4 linked regions of the Homo sapiens genome follow. The protein of the gene in region 1 purifies or fractionates together with the protein of each later gene. This does not show direct contact. Each region holds a gene or a part of one and is shown in the gene's direction. Other genes may lie near its edges.

Evidence for each region. The genes of interacting proteins can lie anywhere in the genome.
Region 2: the proteins of PPFIBP2 (region 1) and C14orf93 purify together in Homo sapiens (affinity purification with mass spectrometry; one large-scale study listed by BioGRID and IntAct). This does not show direct contact.
Region 3: the proteins of PPFIBP2 (region 1) and RTL6 purify together in Homo sapiens (affinity purification with mass spectrometry; one large-scale study listed by BioGRID and IntAct). This does not show direct contact.
Region 4: the proteins of PPFIBP2 (region 1) and HSF2 purify together in Homo sapiens (affinity purification with mass spectrometry; one large-scale study listed by BioGRID and IntAct). This does not show direct contact.

The regions. Positions count from the first base shown.
Region 1 is NC_000011.10:7,635,048-7,640,438, forward strand, and holds part of PPFIBP2 (liprin-beta-2), read left to right. Parts: intron 1-504; coding exon 505-546; intron 547-4,684; coding exon 4,685-4,823; intron 4,824-5,391. UniProt on the Homo sapiens protein: May regulate the disassembly of focal adhesions. Did not bind receptor-like tyrosine phosphatases type 2A.
Region 2 is NC_000014.9:22,992,768-22,996,643, reverse strand, and holds part of C14orf93 (uncharacterized protein C14orf93 isoform a precursor), read left to right. Parts: intron 1-375; coding exon 376-696; intron 697-3,876.
Region 3 is NC_000022.11:44,491,707-44,494,836, reverse strand, and holds the end of RTL6 (retrotransposon Gag-like protein 6), read left to right. Parts: 3' UTR 1-2,254; downstream 2,255-3,130.
Region 4 is NC_000006.12:122,402,652-122,406,527, forward strand, and holds part of HSF2 (heat shock factor protein 2), read left to right. Parts: intron 1-3,876. UniProt on the Homo sapiens protein: DNA-binding protein that specifically binds heat shock promoter elements (HSE) and activates transcription. In higher eukaryotes, HSF is unable to bind to the HSE unless the cells are heat shocked.

The DNA.
Region 1 (5,391 bases):
TGGAGGAGGGTCTTGTGGCTCCTTATATAGGAGTAGCCCTTGATCATGTGGGTGGACCTCATGCTGCAGGGGACAGTAGCAGGCTCTTGAGCTTGGTCATTAGAGACCAAGGGAGCCTGCCCTGATAGAGACCCTTCAGTGAGCCTGTGCTGCATACCATCCCTTGGTCTCCAATAATGTTCATCAGCCTCCTTGTTGATACAGTGGAGAACCATAAAGGCTGAAGTCTGCAGGAGCCCTGGGATCATTCAGTGGCTCTGCTCCCATGGTCACGTGTCTCTCGGTTGCCATGGTCATGTTGCTGGCAGCTGCCCAGGACATCTGTCCATGGAGTTGGACAGGGATCTTTCCTGCCCTGGATGGTGATTACTTGACATGAAGATGTGGAGGGAGGGGATGCGCCTTTCAGATTTAAGCAAACAGGTAGTCCTGAGTTGTTGCTGTTTGTGAATAACACAAGTCTCTTTTTCTCCACATAAACGAAATCCTCATGTTACTCCATAGTGTATGGATGGGAACCAGCCCTTCCCGGTGTTAGAACCCAAGGTACATTGACTTCGTGCCCCGTCGTCTATTTGTGGTTACACTGTTTGCTAGTATTTTAATTTAGCAAGTCATAGTTTTCATAACCTTAAAATGTGCCAACTGTAAGGAGTAAGAGGGCAAGAGGAAAGACGCAACTTTTCTCTCCCATTTTATTTTTATGTGCACTCAGCTATTTAATATGCTTTTGCTATCATTATCTGTGGGACAGGATTTATTATTATCACCTCCATTTTATAGGCTCAGAGAAATTAATCTTTAACAAAGTAATCTAGATTTAATCACTGGGAAGGGGATTGCTACGATCTCAGCACACTGAAGAACGTGACAGCTCTCATCCTTTCTGTGCTGATATGTCATGGTTAAAAAAACACAAGTGTACACTCAGTCCCGCTTTGATGAACAAGTTATGTTATAAAAATTCCATTAGGACTGATCTTCTCCAGGGAAGCCTGTTGTGGAAGAGGATTAAGTTTTTAGGCCAGTGCACAAAATGTTGAGCCCATAAAGAAATGAAGATTCATATAATTAGCATGATTTCAGCCACACCCAACCACCATTTATAACATTATATGGAAAATGTATTGTGAGGCTGATGGCATTTCCCTTCTCTGTCCCCTGCCTCCATGTCCATATGAAACATGGAGCTTCTCATTGCTTGCTGACTTCTGCCTGAGAGGGTCATTTTATATTTTCACGGTAAAATGGGGCATCTCTGCTCCTCCACATCTGCGTAAGAGAAAGATCTTTTCTGCACGTCTGCATCTATATAAGGGGCTTCTCTACTCTTCCATATTTGTAGCAGTTGGTTCTTCAAGTGGGCAGCCATTCCTTGGGCCATCTGAACTGTATAGCAAAAGTCTTCTGCCTGCTCCCCTGCCCAGGTGCTCTGCAACACAGTCCCTTGAGCCTGGGGTTGGTGTGGTCCCTTTGTGAACTGAAAGGCTTCCTATGGCGTCAGCTGTTAAATCGCTCAGCAGTCCCCCCTCCCACCTCAGCGTCACAGAGGTCATTCGCAGGTGTTTCTAAAGCACACCTGTAAGTGACCACCTGCTCCTTTGGAAACACACCCAGCTCACAGGCTCAAGGTTTAAGACGCCAATTTGATTACCAAGAAATATAAGTAACGTAGAACTATTTATAAAGAAAAAAATGCTCCAGATTAAAAGATTAATTCTTACATGGTTTTGGCCATAATCACAATCTTATACAACCTCAGTTATTCAACATGACCACCCTCCCCTCTCACCCACATACACCACCGTCCTCCCCAGAATAGCTACACAGGTGCAGAACCGCTCCACAGTCATCTTTCTGCAGCATCCCTAACTGTAGTGTCTGGCCCTTGCTTAAACTGGCTCTTGCTTTCTGTGACTGAGAGCTCATTTCATTGGAAGACATCCTTTGTATTCTTTTGCAGCTGTGTGAGCTTCTCTAAAATGTGCATCTGCTGATCCTCTCCCTCCACATCTAGCCCATGGAAAAAGTCAATCTCCCCTACTCCTGACAGCTCTGGAATTTAAGTCCCTCATGCCCTCTCTGAGTGCTCTGTTCTCTGGGCTGAACATCACCTTCTCATGTGCATGGATCACAAGCCTTTTAAGCTGCTACTTAGTCTTCTTAGGCTCAGCGCTAGTTTCTCAATGTATTCTTCAAGTTCTGCCCTGGACCAGACTTGGAGTGTGATATTCTAGATGTAGTCTGACCAGTGCCTGCCGTGGTCTAAGGACTCCTCTTCTAGATTGCTATTTCTTTAGGCCCTGGGTATGTGATATTTCCTGTGCTTCTCCTTATCCACTGTCCGCTGTGTGCTAGGCCCTGTGGATATGTTATTTCCTGGCAAACCTGAGGTAGGAATTGTTATTCTCCATTTAGAAATGACCAGAGGTCCTGAGAGGTGGAAGAGAAACAGCTCTGTCTGAGTTGGTCTGACTCAAAGCCTAGGCCCTTTCCACTCTGGCATGCTGCTTCTCTGTTGTAATTTAAAGCAGCTGGATAATCAGTTCTACACTACTCCCTTGGCTGGGGCTTCTGTTCCCCTACAGCCAGGAGGATTGTTCTTTTTGGAGACAGGAGAAACAGAACTGGAGTTGAGCATCCTTGTTTCCTCTGCGTCACGTCTTGACATTGCACTGCCTTCCACATCAGTGAGTCATTTCTTCCCAGCCCTTATTCTTGGCCTGAGCAGAGCTCAGAGAGCCCTTTCCATTGTCCTTGATTCCTTTTTGCTGTCTTTCTTACAGGTCGGGGCTGCCTTTTAAACCCCATCCTTGGGTTAGGTATGTGTTCTCCTTGCATCTCAGCTCCTCAGGGAGCTCCCCGGGTGGCCCACTTGCTTCCTTGGCTGTCTCTGCCCTGCCTTGAGGGAGCATGCGTGATGATGCAACCAGAAACACGTTTTTGAGAGCTCTTCCCCCCTCCATATGTCGTATATAATAGGGAGCTTGGAGTCATGCCCTTCAGGTCTCTAACATCTTTGAACACTACCTTCTCACAGTCAGTGGTTCCTGGGTCTGACTGCATTAGTATAATCTGAGATAATCTGAGATCCTTGTTAAAAATATAGACATCTGGGGTGTGCTTCCAGAGGGACTGAATCAGGGACTGGGCACTGGGAATTCATGTTGTTTTACAAGTGCTCCAGGTAATTATGAAGAGCAGCCGGCACATGAACTACCACTTGGAAACTGTGGGTCTTGACCGTATGTCTGATCATGTCTAATCTTCACCTCATGGGTCATCACAAACTTGAAAATCTCATAGCCTTCCTCTCTGAAGGTTCTAGTTACTTCTACTCCACCAGCCAGTTCTTTCAGAATTCAGTTTCCTCTCACTGTATCTCTCCTTTCTGAACTATTTATGGGGAGTTAATAGTCAATGTTCAATGAATGAACTGAATCTCAAACAATTTCTAGGACATATGTTTATAAGCAAATTGAATTGGAAATATATTGGATATTTGGCCTTTAGCTAAATGGAACTTCATAAGATGTCTCAGTCACAGCAGCCTTCCATTACTGTTGTGACTTGCCAGTTTGAAATCTGTTTTGTTTTTTATATTACTTTCTTCAGGATCTAATCAGGTGATCCACAGTTGATTCCTTTAGTGACATTGCTTCAATTTCTCTTTTCTTTTATTCTCACTTTCACAGCACATTCCACTGTGTTTCTCTCAGGTTTGCAGATTAAGAGAGGCCATTGTATGCCTCTTTACCAAATAAGTGCTATCTTCTTCCTCATTTAATCAACTTGTTTCTTTGGGACCTTTCCATGGCCAGGGTCCAAGCATGGAGCTGGCTGCACTGAGGCTCTACCTCGTGCAGACTATGATCCTAAGTTCCCAAAGGAGCTTTGTTGGCATGTAGTCCTCTGGCCCATTTCTTGTTGTCAGCTCCCCCAAGGGTGTGTGTGTATCTTCATGCTTGCCTTAACATGATGTTTTTTAAGAAGCCATGATCACAATATAGGGATTTTTTCTTCTTTTGCTCCACATTTAAACTATAATTTCCCTTCTGTACCATAGCCGCTCTCAGGCAAGATCCATATCATTTATGCAGTTGGTCAGGCCCTCACAGAGATCTGCCCTTTTCTGGTCTGAGTAAGGGTTCCAATTAGCAGAAGCACCTCTCTCCTCACCACAGGAAAGCAAATCTGGGGGAAACAGAGGAGCCCAGACCAGACTGAGCTCAGTTTCCTCTCTTGCAGGATTGTTATTTTACATATATATGTATGTATGTATGATAAAACACTAGGCAGCTTTTATTAGAATGCCAATTTTCATATCCAAAGAGCTTACAGAGTAATTCACGGCTGTTAATTCATTGAGTCTCTGAGCACTAGGCCAGACAGCAAAGGCCGCTTTGCAAGACAGCTTCACTTCCTGTTAGAGTCAGTTTCAGTCAGCCCCAGATTTGCACTTGACTCTGTCCCTGTCTTACTGTGTGGCCTTGGGAAAGTTTCTTCCTTCCTTGGAACTCTGGTCCCCTTTCTCGGACTAGCTAAATAATCTTTGAGGGGTGTTCAAGTCACCATATGTGAAAAATGGCTCTTGCAAAACAGGGAGTTGTTCTGTATCCAAGGATTTCCTAACTGAGGCTGACAGTTAAGTCGGTATCTCTCTCTTTCTCTCACCTTCCAATAGGACAGCCCTTTCTTGGCGGAGCACAAATATCCCACTTTACCTGGGAAGCTTTCAGGAGCCACGCCCAATGGAGAGGCTGCCAAATCTCCTCCCACCATCTGCCAGCCTGACGCCACGGGGAGCAGCCTGCTGAGGCTGAGTGAGTGTCCAGCCCTGGTGCTGGTGGCCTCTGAGCAGTGTCCTTGGCACTTTCAATGATTGTATAAGATCCCTGCACCTACCACCACAATCCACAATTGGAGAATGGTGGGGTGGGTGGCTGGAACAAGTTGTACCTTGGGGTGGTCCCACCTCCCCAGAGGCTCCCCCTGGGCGAGCTGTTTTCTAAGGTCAGCACTCTACAGTCTCAGCAAACCAGGGTGTGTGTATCCCCTACTTCTTTTCGGCTGCAGCTTTTCACCCTTATTTCCTCTCTTCTTCTCTTCCTCCTCTCGAACTCTTTCCTGTCCTTCCTAGCATTGTTTTCCCTCCTCTCAGACACCCCCTTCTACCCTTCCTGCCCCTGGTGCTTCCTTCCTCTGTCATTCTGATCTTCTCTCTCCTGTCTCCACCTTCTTCTCTGCAGCTTCCCTATTCCCCGTAGGAGGGTATCATGCACTCCAAGTGGGAGCATTTCCTTAGGCAAATGAAGTCAGTGGCCAATGGGCAAGGGTGTCGGTCTGCAGGTATCCTTTCGGTGCGTAAGACCTGAAACCACAGAGGCTTTT
Region 2 (3,876 bases), on another chromosome or scaffold:
ACTCCTTCTCTTGCTTGGTTTCTTTCTTGTCATCACTTCTTCACCCAGTCCTTTCAGACAAAACACTTATCTAGCTCCATTTCTTATATCCAAGAGCTATCCATAAATGACTATTCACCAACAGTGTCAGAAACATGCTTTCTCCTTGTGAGCAGCCCTATGGTAACAACCCAACATGAGAGGCCCTGTACACACAAGAAATATTTGCCCAACACTCATAGGAGTCCCAGAGAAACAAGCCATTGACCATTAAAGACTGTGCTAGAGTTCCCCTTCTTTCCACTTTCTGTTCACTATTCTTAGCCAAAGAATGATGGTTAACCAGGTTCCCCTAAGCCTGGCTGGCTAATAGGCTATTATTTTTTATGTTCTTAGCTGGTGGATGATTACGTGGCCTCTGAGGGTGCAGTACAGCGAGTTCTGGTCCCTGCTTATGCCAAGCAACTCTCACCAGCCACACAACTGGCAATCCAGCGGGCAACCCCAGAGACAGGACCAGAAAATGGAACCAAGCTGCCACCACCCCGCCCTGAGGACATGCTCAATGCCGCTGCTGCGCTGGACAGTGCCTTGGAAGAGTCAGGCCCTGGGAGCACTGGGGAGCTGAGACACTCTCTAGGGCTGACCGTTTCCCCATGCAGGACCAGAGGAAGTGGGCAGAAGAACTCCAGGCGCAAGCGGGATCTTGTACTCTCTGTGAGTGAGCTCAGTTTCTATAAATTTTTCTTCAGTCTGGAGAGATAAGTGAAGAGTGATGGGTGGGTTGATTTTAGGCCTCCCATATTGAATGAATGCTGTACTGAATCCTACCAGAGTGGGAGGGATAAGGAGAGAGGTTATTCTGTAACACTAGGGATAGGAAGTCCCCTGCTAAACATCAAGCTTTTAGGCTTTTCCAGATAATGTGATATCTTCCTTTATATCACATCTCCTGGTGTTCTTTTTTTTTTTTTTTTTTTTTTTTGAGTCAGAGTCTCACTCTGTCACCCAGGCTGCAGTGCAATGGCATGATCTCAGCTCACTGCAACCTCCACCTCCCAGGTTCAAGCGATTCTCCTGCCTCAGCCTCCTGAGTAGCTGGGATTACAGGCACGTGCCACCACCCCCAGCTAATTTTTGAATTTTCAGTAGAGACCAGGTTTTGCCATGTTGGTCAGGCTGGTCTCGAACTCCTGAGCTCAGGTTATCCACCCGCCTCGGCCTCCCAAAGTACTGGGATTACAGGCGTGAGCCACCATGCCCAGCCTTCCTAGTGTTCTAATAATCCTGATGAGAAGATCTTTAAGGGATTGAGCAGATTGGTCACCAAAGGGTAACTCTGGAAATTGCCTGCAAATTAAGCTAGTGTGCAGAGTAAGTGACAAGGGGCACCTTGGGTGGAAAAGCAAGTGAAGCTGTCCTGAGGTGGTCTCAAGCTTCAGAGATGCAGAGAGTCACTAGACCTTCAGCTCAGTTATAGAGGTTTGGAGATTCCAGTCATTCCAAGAGCTCTTAGCCAGGAAGGGACTGGCCTGAACCAGGTCTGCCTGAACACTTCTTGGCGTGGCTGGGAGCCCAAAGAACATCCTGCTGAGCTGGGAGTCCCCATCCTGGCAGCTGACCAAACCTAGAGAAGTTCTAGGGCAGTAGTTCTCAACCTGGGGTGATTTTACCCTCAGGAGACATTTGGAAACATCTGGAGACGTTTGTGATTATTACAACTGGTGGGTGGCCGGGGGCAGGGGAAGGAGAATGCTACTGACATCTAGTGGGTGTTCTGCTAAACATCCTGCAGTGCACACGACAGCCCCCATAACAAAGAATTATCCAGCTCAAAATGCCAATAGTGAAGAGGTTGAGAAACCTTCTTTAAAGTGACCACAGTCTTTGGGATCAACTCTGTACCCAAAAACTTCTTTTTTTTTTTTTTCTTTCTTGAGACAGGGTCTCACTCCCATTGCCCAGGCTGGAGTGCAGTGGTGTGATCATGGCTCACTGCAGCTTCGACTTCCCAGGCTCAAGTGATCTCCCACCTCAGCCTCCCGAGTAGCTGGGATTACAGGCATGCACCACCATGCCTGGCTTATTTTTTGTATTTTTGTATTTTAGTTGCCCAGGCTGGTCTCACAAAAGCTTTTTTCTGACAACTGTGGGGATATTGTTTTTAGTCTCGCTCTGTCACCCAGGCTGGAGTGCAGTGGCGTGATTTCAGCTCACTGCAAGCCTCCCAGGTTCAAGCGATTCTCCTGCCTCACCCTCCCGAGTAGTTGGGATTACAGACTTGCACCACCACGCCTGGCTAATTTTGTATTTTAGTAGAGATGGGGTTTCACCATGTTGGCCACGCTGGTCTTGAACTCCTGAGATCAGGCAATTCACCCACCTCGGCCTCCCAAAGTGTTGGGATTACAGGCGTGAGCCACCATGCCTGGCTGGAGATATTCTTTAGCCATACAATGTTCATATTGACTATAATGAGTTTATAGTTACAATTTGCATAAAAGCAGGATTTTCCATCACTTCCATTCCACTTGTGCCTGCTGCCTCCAGAGAGAGGTACAGCATTGAGGCCTGGCTTCTTCCTTCCCTTAGGAGAGTGTGGTGGAACTGAAGACCTGCAGGAAGGACAGTATCCTCACTCACCATCATGCTCTCTCTATTCTGTGCTTGAGAAGGATCTGGAGGACTAGTCAGGGAGTTCTGCTGCCCATCATGGAGGAAGGTTTAAAATGTTCTTGTGGCAGACTGTGGGTTTAGAGGGGGAGGGACAGTTATTCCAATCTTTAGCTCTGGGACAGAATCAAAGAGGCATCTCTCCAATCTGCTGAGGCTCTTGAGGATTGCTGCTAGGGATCCTGTGAACCAAAAGGATCAAACCAGAATTCTTAATTCCTTGGAATGCTGCAGATCCCAGCCACTCCTTGGGGAAATATTTTTAGCTTATTCAGGAGGTAGGTGAGCCAACAGCCTTTACAGTCCTCACACTTATTGTCTAGAGTATTTTCCCTTTCCATGTCAAGCCTGTTTTGATTTTTATCAGCTGATCTCTTCCAAGCCACTTGAGTTGGAAGCTTTGTAACTCCCTTTTTTCTTTCCCCTTTTTTTGTTTTTTGTTTTTTTGAAACTCTCCCAAATACTTTCTGAAACATTCGCCCACTCCTTTGTGATTCCTTAAGTGTGGACTACTAAGAGGTAAAATAACTATGTTGAATATGCAGCTAGTATAATAATGGTCCTTTTTACAGAGTGGAGACCCTAGCCATAAAGAGTTGACAATACTTTCCTAAGTTGGTATGGTGAATCAGCCATAGAGGTAGAAGGATAAATTGGGGATTTCTGAATATGGAGCTGAAAAGTCCTTGGATCAGGATATTAATCTGTCAGTTTGGGACTGGGTAACTTCCACTGACTGAGGGAGCTTGGGATGAAAATACAATCAGAAACAACTAAACTTAATTGAAGGACATGTTAAAACCCTGCATTAGGGCCGGGTGCGGTGGCTCACGCCTGTAATCCCAGCACTCTGGGAGGCCAAGGCGGGCAGATCACCTGAGGTCAGGAGTTTGAGACTAGCCTGGCCAACATGGTGAAACCACGTCTCTACTAAAGATACAAAAATTAGCTGGGCGTGGTGGCGTGCGCCTGTAATCCCAGCCACTTGAGAGGCTGAGGTAGGAGAATCACTTGAACCTGGGAGGCGGAGGTTGCAGTGAGCTGAGACCACACCACTGCACTCTAGCCTGGACAACAGAGCAAGACTCTGTCTCTTAATAAATAAATAAAGCTGGGCGTGGTGGCTCATGCCTGTAATCCCAGCACTTTGGGAAGCCGAGGTGGGTGGATCACGAGGTCAGGAGTTCAAGACCAGCCTGGCCAACATGGTGAAACCCCATCTCT
Region 3 (3,130 bases), on another chromosome or scaffold:
AGCAGGGTGGGAACTCTGCTGTGTCGCCAGCGCTCACTCTACTCGAGTGGCTTTTTGAAAGCCCTACCATGTCTGTGTCAGGCCTGTGCTGCTTCACATCCTACAGCTGCCTAGGAAAGGCCGGCCACGCTCCCTGTCCACACACTCCCTGTCCACACACTCCCTGTCCACACACTCCCTGTCCACAACTGCAGCCGGGCCCTCTGCCTATGGGCACCCAATCCAAGCAGCTGCTCCACCTTTGTTTGGCATGGTGATTTGTGTTTTTTCTCTTGGTGCTTATGTGTGTGGGCTTGGGACGAGTGCTGGTATGCACTTAGGACCTTCTTGATAGCTCCCTGCACTTTGGAACACGGAGCAGATGAGAGAGGGTCGGGGCTTGCCCTCCACCTTGGACTTGGAAGAAGCCCACATTGGAGAGGTGAGGACCCCATGGTGGCTCTAGTGGAAGATACGTTAGTCTCCAGCTAAGGAGGATGAGGCGCAGCCCCAGAGGGAGACCTCAGTGATAGGGGATCAGGCTAAGAAAGTGGGGGAAGGGAGATGCTTTGTACATATTTTGGGGTTATAATTTCTCTAAATTTTAGGAGAACGGGTATTGATTGATAAAAGGGACAGGCAGTAGTGTTCAACAGTGCATGTGAAGGAAAGTTCTGTTTTCCATGGTTTTGACATTCTTTGGACTGTATTGTGACTGCTGTCTGGTCCACATGGTACCCCTTTGGTAAGTAGGCTTCAGTGCATACCAGGGTATCACTGGAGATGGGAGTTAGTGAAGGGGTGACTCCCTGGCCTAGTATAGTGTGACCCTGGGACTAACTTAATGTCCTAAAGCATTTTGGTGACTTCTAGGGAATAGCAAAGACCTATTTCATTGTCCCCAGGTAAGTATGTGATGAGCAATGAGGAGGAGTGGAAAACAAAACCCAGAAAGTGCGGCAGGACCAGCCTGACGCACACGCTCCTGTTGTCATGGCAGACAGCCGCCTTGGGTGGGCACCACCCTGGCAGTTCCAGCCTGTAGGGGAGTGAAGGGACATGGCTGAGCTGGGCATGTGCTGAGGTTGACTTAGGGAACAAGCCCTGGGATTGGACAAAAGGGCCCATGCTGCAGCCACTGACTGGGGGCAGAGCTCTGGGTGGAAGAGGGAAGAGATCCTAATGGAGGCGCCTCCATCTGCAACCACAGTTGTAAGGCTCATGGCACCTCTGCTTGGAAAGCACTGGTTTAGGGACTTAGAGAGGTAGGCACAAGGTGGGTCTCCTGGGTAAGGGAAGCAAGAGCAGACTGTTGGGCCAACAGGAGAAGCTCCCCAGAGTAGGGGAGAAGGTTGGGGTGTAGGGCCTTCCACGTGGAACAGACAGCCCCTGTGTCTCTGTCTCTTGGGGACCTGAGTTTGGGTGGGGTGGCAGTTGGCACAGCGCAGATGCGGTAGAGATGGGAGGAAACCCAGCTCCTCACTTCCGTGTGCCTCATGCCTTTGCATACACAAGCACCAAACCTACTAGGTCTTCTCATTACCCATGTAAACCACATGTTAGATAAATTTTTGCAAGTAGAGGAAAGAAGGAAATAAAACATCACATTTTGGTGTCTCTCAGGCTTTCCCCCCCAACTATGGTTTCTTTGCTTTTTGTTTTAACATAGTTTTGTTGCTGTCTTCTGTAATGATACAGTTTTGTGCAGCTGTTTTCACTTAGCATATCGTGGGCATCTCCCCTTATGATTACTAAATATTTTATTTTGGAGTGGCTGTGTACTCTCCCATTGACTAGATGGACCATTGTGCCAGTTGCCAATCACTAATGCTGTTACTAACTTTTCAGTTATAAATTGATGAATATCTTTGTGCACAGGCTGTTTCCCAATGTCAAGTTATTAGGGTAGACTCCAGGAGGTGGGATTCTTCAACTAAAGAATATGAAAACCTTTGAGGCTTTTACTACATATTGACAAAATGGTTTCCGGAAATATTTGTATCCCCTTACACTGCCACCAGCAAGGATAAACATGTCCATCTTGCCCGTATTGGGAATTATCATCTGGCTAAATATTTGCTAATTTGATAATGAAAAAATAGCATCGTGTTTCAGTTGGCATTTCACTGACTTCTAGCACGGTTGAACATCTTTCATGTGGAGCGATTGTATTTCCTCCTTTGTGGATTGTCAGTGTCCTTTGCTCTATCTTCTGGGGTCAGATAAATTTGTATGAGCTCGGTATATATTAAAGATATTAACCTGGTGTGTGTCATATTTGCTACAGCTGTTTCTGGGTTTTTGTGTGTTTTATCTTATTGGAATTTTGACATACATAGTCGATCTGTCTCCACAGCACTGTGTCTGCTAGACAAGAACACAAGGCAGGCAGGTGGATTTTGTCTGTTTTGTTCATGGCCGTAGCACTAGCACCTATGACAATGCCTGGCACGTGATAGGTACTCAGTACACTTCTGTTGAATTAGTTACTCCAGTGGATCTGCAACGCCTTGGGATCCACGGCACGTGATAAGCACTCAGTACACGTTTGTTGAGTTAGTTACTCTGATGGATCTGCAACACATTGGGATCCACACATGGATCCAGCAGTCCGCGCTCCAGCTCACAGGCCGAGGCTCTCACACTCCAGAGCTCGCAGGCCGAGGCTCTCACACTCCAGAGCTCGCAGGCCGAGGCTCTCACACATTTTGTCTCAGGGTCCCCTTGCACTATAAGAACTCATTGAGGGCCTCAAACAGCTTTTGCTTATATAGGTTTTCTCTATCAATATTTACCATATTATACATTTAAACAGAATTTTAAAATAATTATTTGGAAAATAAAAACACTGTTAAACAACATTTTAAATAAAAAAAACTATATTTTCCAAAACAAAACGCTTGTGAGGAGAGGCATTGACGAAGACATTTTTGCAAATGCCTGTAATGTCTGGCTGAATGGAAGACAGTGGGAGCCTCCTACCTGCTGTGCTTAACCTGCAAGAGCACATGCCATGGTGCCTCTGAAAGCCCCACTGCGCCCATGAGATGACGCGGAAAAGGCACATGATATTTTGGGATTATTATGAAAACAATTTTGTGGACCCCCGAAAGCGTCTTGCCCCTCTTTGAGAACTGCTGGCCTAAAGAGA
Region 4 (3,876 bases), on another chromosome or scaffold:
AAACGATTCTTCTGCCTCAGCGTCTCGAGTAGTTGTGATTACAGATGCGCACCACCATGCCTGGCTAATTTTTGTATTTTTAGTAGAGACAGTGTTTCACCATGTTGGCCAGGCAGTCTCAAACTCCTGACCTCAAGTGATCCACCCGTCTCGGCCTCCCAAAGTGTTGAGATTACAGGTGTGAGCCACCGGCGCCCAGGTACTCTCATCTTTTGAAAGTTGCTATTTATGGTGGTTTCTGGTTTCCTTCAAACTTGTGTTGTATTTCTGTTGAGGTAATTTAGCATTTATACTATGAAAATCATTGAGAACTTTTAGAAGAAGCAGTTGTTTTGGGAACCAGACAAGCTTTTGTGCAGTTTTTTTTTTCAATGGTGGAAAATAATTTATTTCTCTACCTTGAGTGTAAGGCAAGGGAAAAAAAACTCTTACCAATTGCGTTTTGGAAAACGCAGTTGGTAATATCTCTAGATAATATCTCTGGAGACGTACATAACTTTAATTTTCCTCGAAATTTGCAATATGACAAAATTGAAAAGGGAAATAATACCTCTCACCATTAAATACAAGAATATAATAATCTGAACAATTGAAATTATACTTAAATATGTTATTGACTCTAAAATAATAGAAATGCCTTAATTCCAGACAGTCTTTAAGAAAGCATAATGTGGCTAGGCGTGGTGGCTCATGCCTGTAATCCCAGCACTTTGGGAGGCCAAGATGGGCAGGTTGCTTGAGCCCAGGAGTTTGAGACCAGCCTGGGCAACATGGTGAAACCCTGTCTCTACAAAAAAATACAGAAAGTAGCCAGGTATGGTGGCGTGCATCTTTAGTCCCAGCTACTCAGGAGGCTGAAGAGGGGAGATGGCTTGAGCCCATGAGGCAGAGGTTGCAATGAGCTGAGATCACACTACTGCAAGCCAGCCTGAACAACAGAACGAAATCCTGTCTCAAAACAACAACAACAAAAAACAGAAAGAAAAGAAAGTATGTTTTACATATTTCCATTTTCTCCTTACTCTTCTGAAAAACAAAAATGAAAAGTTTTCATTTTTTTTAACATTTCCTTTAAATGTAAAATTTTATATAACTGTTCTTGGCTTTGGTAGTCTGTTGTCAGAATCAAGTACAGAGATTGTACTGTCAGACGACCTAAAACTGTTTTAAATCTTAAGTGTCCTAAAGAGAGGGCACATATTAGCTTGGAAGCAACTGGTGAAACTTGATATTCAGAGACAAGGCCGTAGAGGTTAAATGAAGTTATATAGTAAAAAACAGCCTTTACGAGTTAATGAAATGTTACAACCAACGTATGCTGAAGTGAAGCAGTATAAAAGAAGGAAAGAACTGGAAGGTCATCCTTTTGTCAGTGTTGTTACCTTTGTCTCTGTTCTTCAGATTGTTTGAGAAAATGAAGTGATTTCCACCAAAGACTTCATACCCAGCTTTCCCCCCTTTTTGTGCCCTTTGGCATTCTCTGCTTCTCTATCCCCCTCATGTCAGCAGAGATGAATTAGGAAATAGGTAGGAGGGAGAGAGAGCAAAAACAGAATTTTTCCATTGTTTTCTAGCTGTTTTGGATGAATTTGAGCAGTAGGCCCTTGGACTTCACAAAGTGCTAGTATTGTTTTGAACATCCCAGCAACCATTGCATTATATTAGTATTTCAAAGTGAAAATAAGAAAGACTACAAGTGTGGGAGGATGGGGGTAAAATCCAACTTAGATGGACCTGCAGAAAAGTTGAAAGATTGATTTTCAAGTATTTTTATTTGTATATATAAGAGAAAGAATGAGCTAAAGACTCTAAAAGAGTAGCTGGTGCATATTAAAAATTATAGATTAGCAAGCCACAAATTTCTGTTCCGAAAAATGTTTTAAAGTAATGTGGCTGAAGTATTAGATTATTAGGAATATTTTGAGTGTTCTAACAAGAGTGCCAAAATTAATTTGGAGAGTAACGACTGTTTCTACTCTTTGGACTCTTGCCAACATTTGTGGGTAAGGTTTAAGGAGAAGGTGCCTATCTTTCCCACCTCACTCAGTAGTAGTTTTCTCATCCTTGTAAAATACTTAGGGAGATTCTGTGTTGTATTGCTTGAACCTCACAGGTTTAAAAGACAGGAAGGTGAATTTTTGCACTCAAAGAAGTTATTTACTAATTTTAGAATAGAGACTGAGGGAATACAATAAGCAGAGATAGAGTGATATGAATGAATAAGGAGTGTATGTGAGAGAGAGTGAGCACAGGTATAGCAAGAGATTATTGTCATCTCCCTATTTTATATAATCAAATAGTTGAAATTCTAAAAATTCAGTTTATTTGGCCAAAGATTAATTTAGTCAGTCACAGGTATTTGTTATGAATCTGTTATGACCTAATATTGTGCTAGGTATCAGGAATTCATTCAGTAGTGAACCAAAGTGCCTACCTTTATGGAGCTTACATTGAGTGGTGGATATCAATAAATAGTAAGCAAATACAAGCTGGGTATGGTGGTGCATGTCGTAGTTCTGGGTACTGGGGAGGCTGAGTTGGGAGGATTGCTTGAGCCCAGGAGTTTGAGGCTAGCTTGGGCAACATACTGAGACCCCTGTCTCTTAAAAAAAAAAAAAAAAAAAGTAAAAGCAAGCAAAACACAATCAATATAATTTCAGTTAGTGATAAATGCCTTTAAAAAACACCAAGATAAACTGTGTGTCGGTTAAGATGCAATCATAAGTCAGAAGCCACAGGTATTTTCAAGAGGGTAAGTTTAATAGAGTTACTGACTATATCAGGGAAATTAAAGAAAATTAAAAGAATACAAGAATAGTTTTAAGAAGCAGCCACTACTGATAGGGCTGAGATAGAGTGCCCAAGTAAGAACCTTTTTTGCCAAGGCTAAGATTCTTACCTTATTGGAAGGAATATGGCCATGACTCAGTAGCAGAGCAGTCACTGGTGTTGCTCTGGTGGAACTTACTGGAAATGCATCCTTCAAAACTTGGTGGGAAATATGCCCTCTAGGTCACGGGTTGGCAAACTGTAGTCCTTTTGCCAGCTGTTTTATAAAAAAAAGTTTAAATAGAACACAGCTATGCCCAATCTATTTACATATTGTCTGTATCTGCTTTCTCACTACAAAGGTAGAGTTATGATGTTATAATCTGCAAGCCTAATTTACTATTTGTCCCTTTAAGAAAAAGTTTATAAATCCCTGTTCTGGAGTACTCTAAAAAACTGTTTATGGGGAGATATCTTGTTAGAGATACTCTGCTTTGAAACCTCCCAAGGGAGAGGAAGCACCAGTGAAAGCTGATGGTCTTTGAGTGTTGCTGACCACCATTAATATCAAGAGCTAGGCACTGGAGAAGCTGCCTCCACTGCAGAAGCTTGCCAAGGATACATGAGTCAGGAACAAGAGCTCCTTTTTCTTGTAATATCTCTCTTTTATCCCCTGCTGACAGAACTTAACATCATGGCACCTAGAAAAAGAAAGATATTTATTTAAGGAACCAAGCTCTATGCTTGTAGAGCAGACAATGAAGAATGAATTTGGAGCAATAAATTGATAACTGGCCCATAAACAGACTAGGATTTGTGAATATTTTAGGTAAGGTGATGAGGAAAGCCTCTCCAAGGAGACGATGTTTGAGGAGAGATCTAAATGATTAGAAAAGATGGGCCAAAGGGGAATGACAAAAGGTAAGGCCTTGAATGTGGCTGTTCAAGGAAGCAGGAAGGCCCATGTGATTAGAATATCTTTAGGGAATTAGGAGAGTGAGAGTAGGGAGGTAGGCAGGAGCAGATGGTATAGGGCCCTAGATCTATAGTAAGAAGATTGGAAATGAGGGGACCAGTTAGAAGACTATCACAGTTTTCCTGTATGGT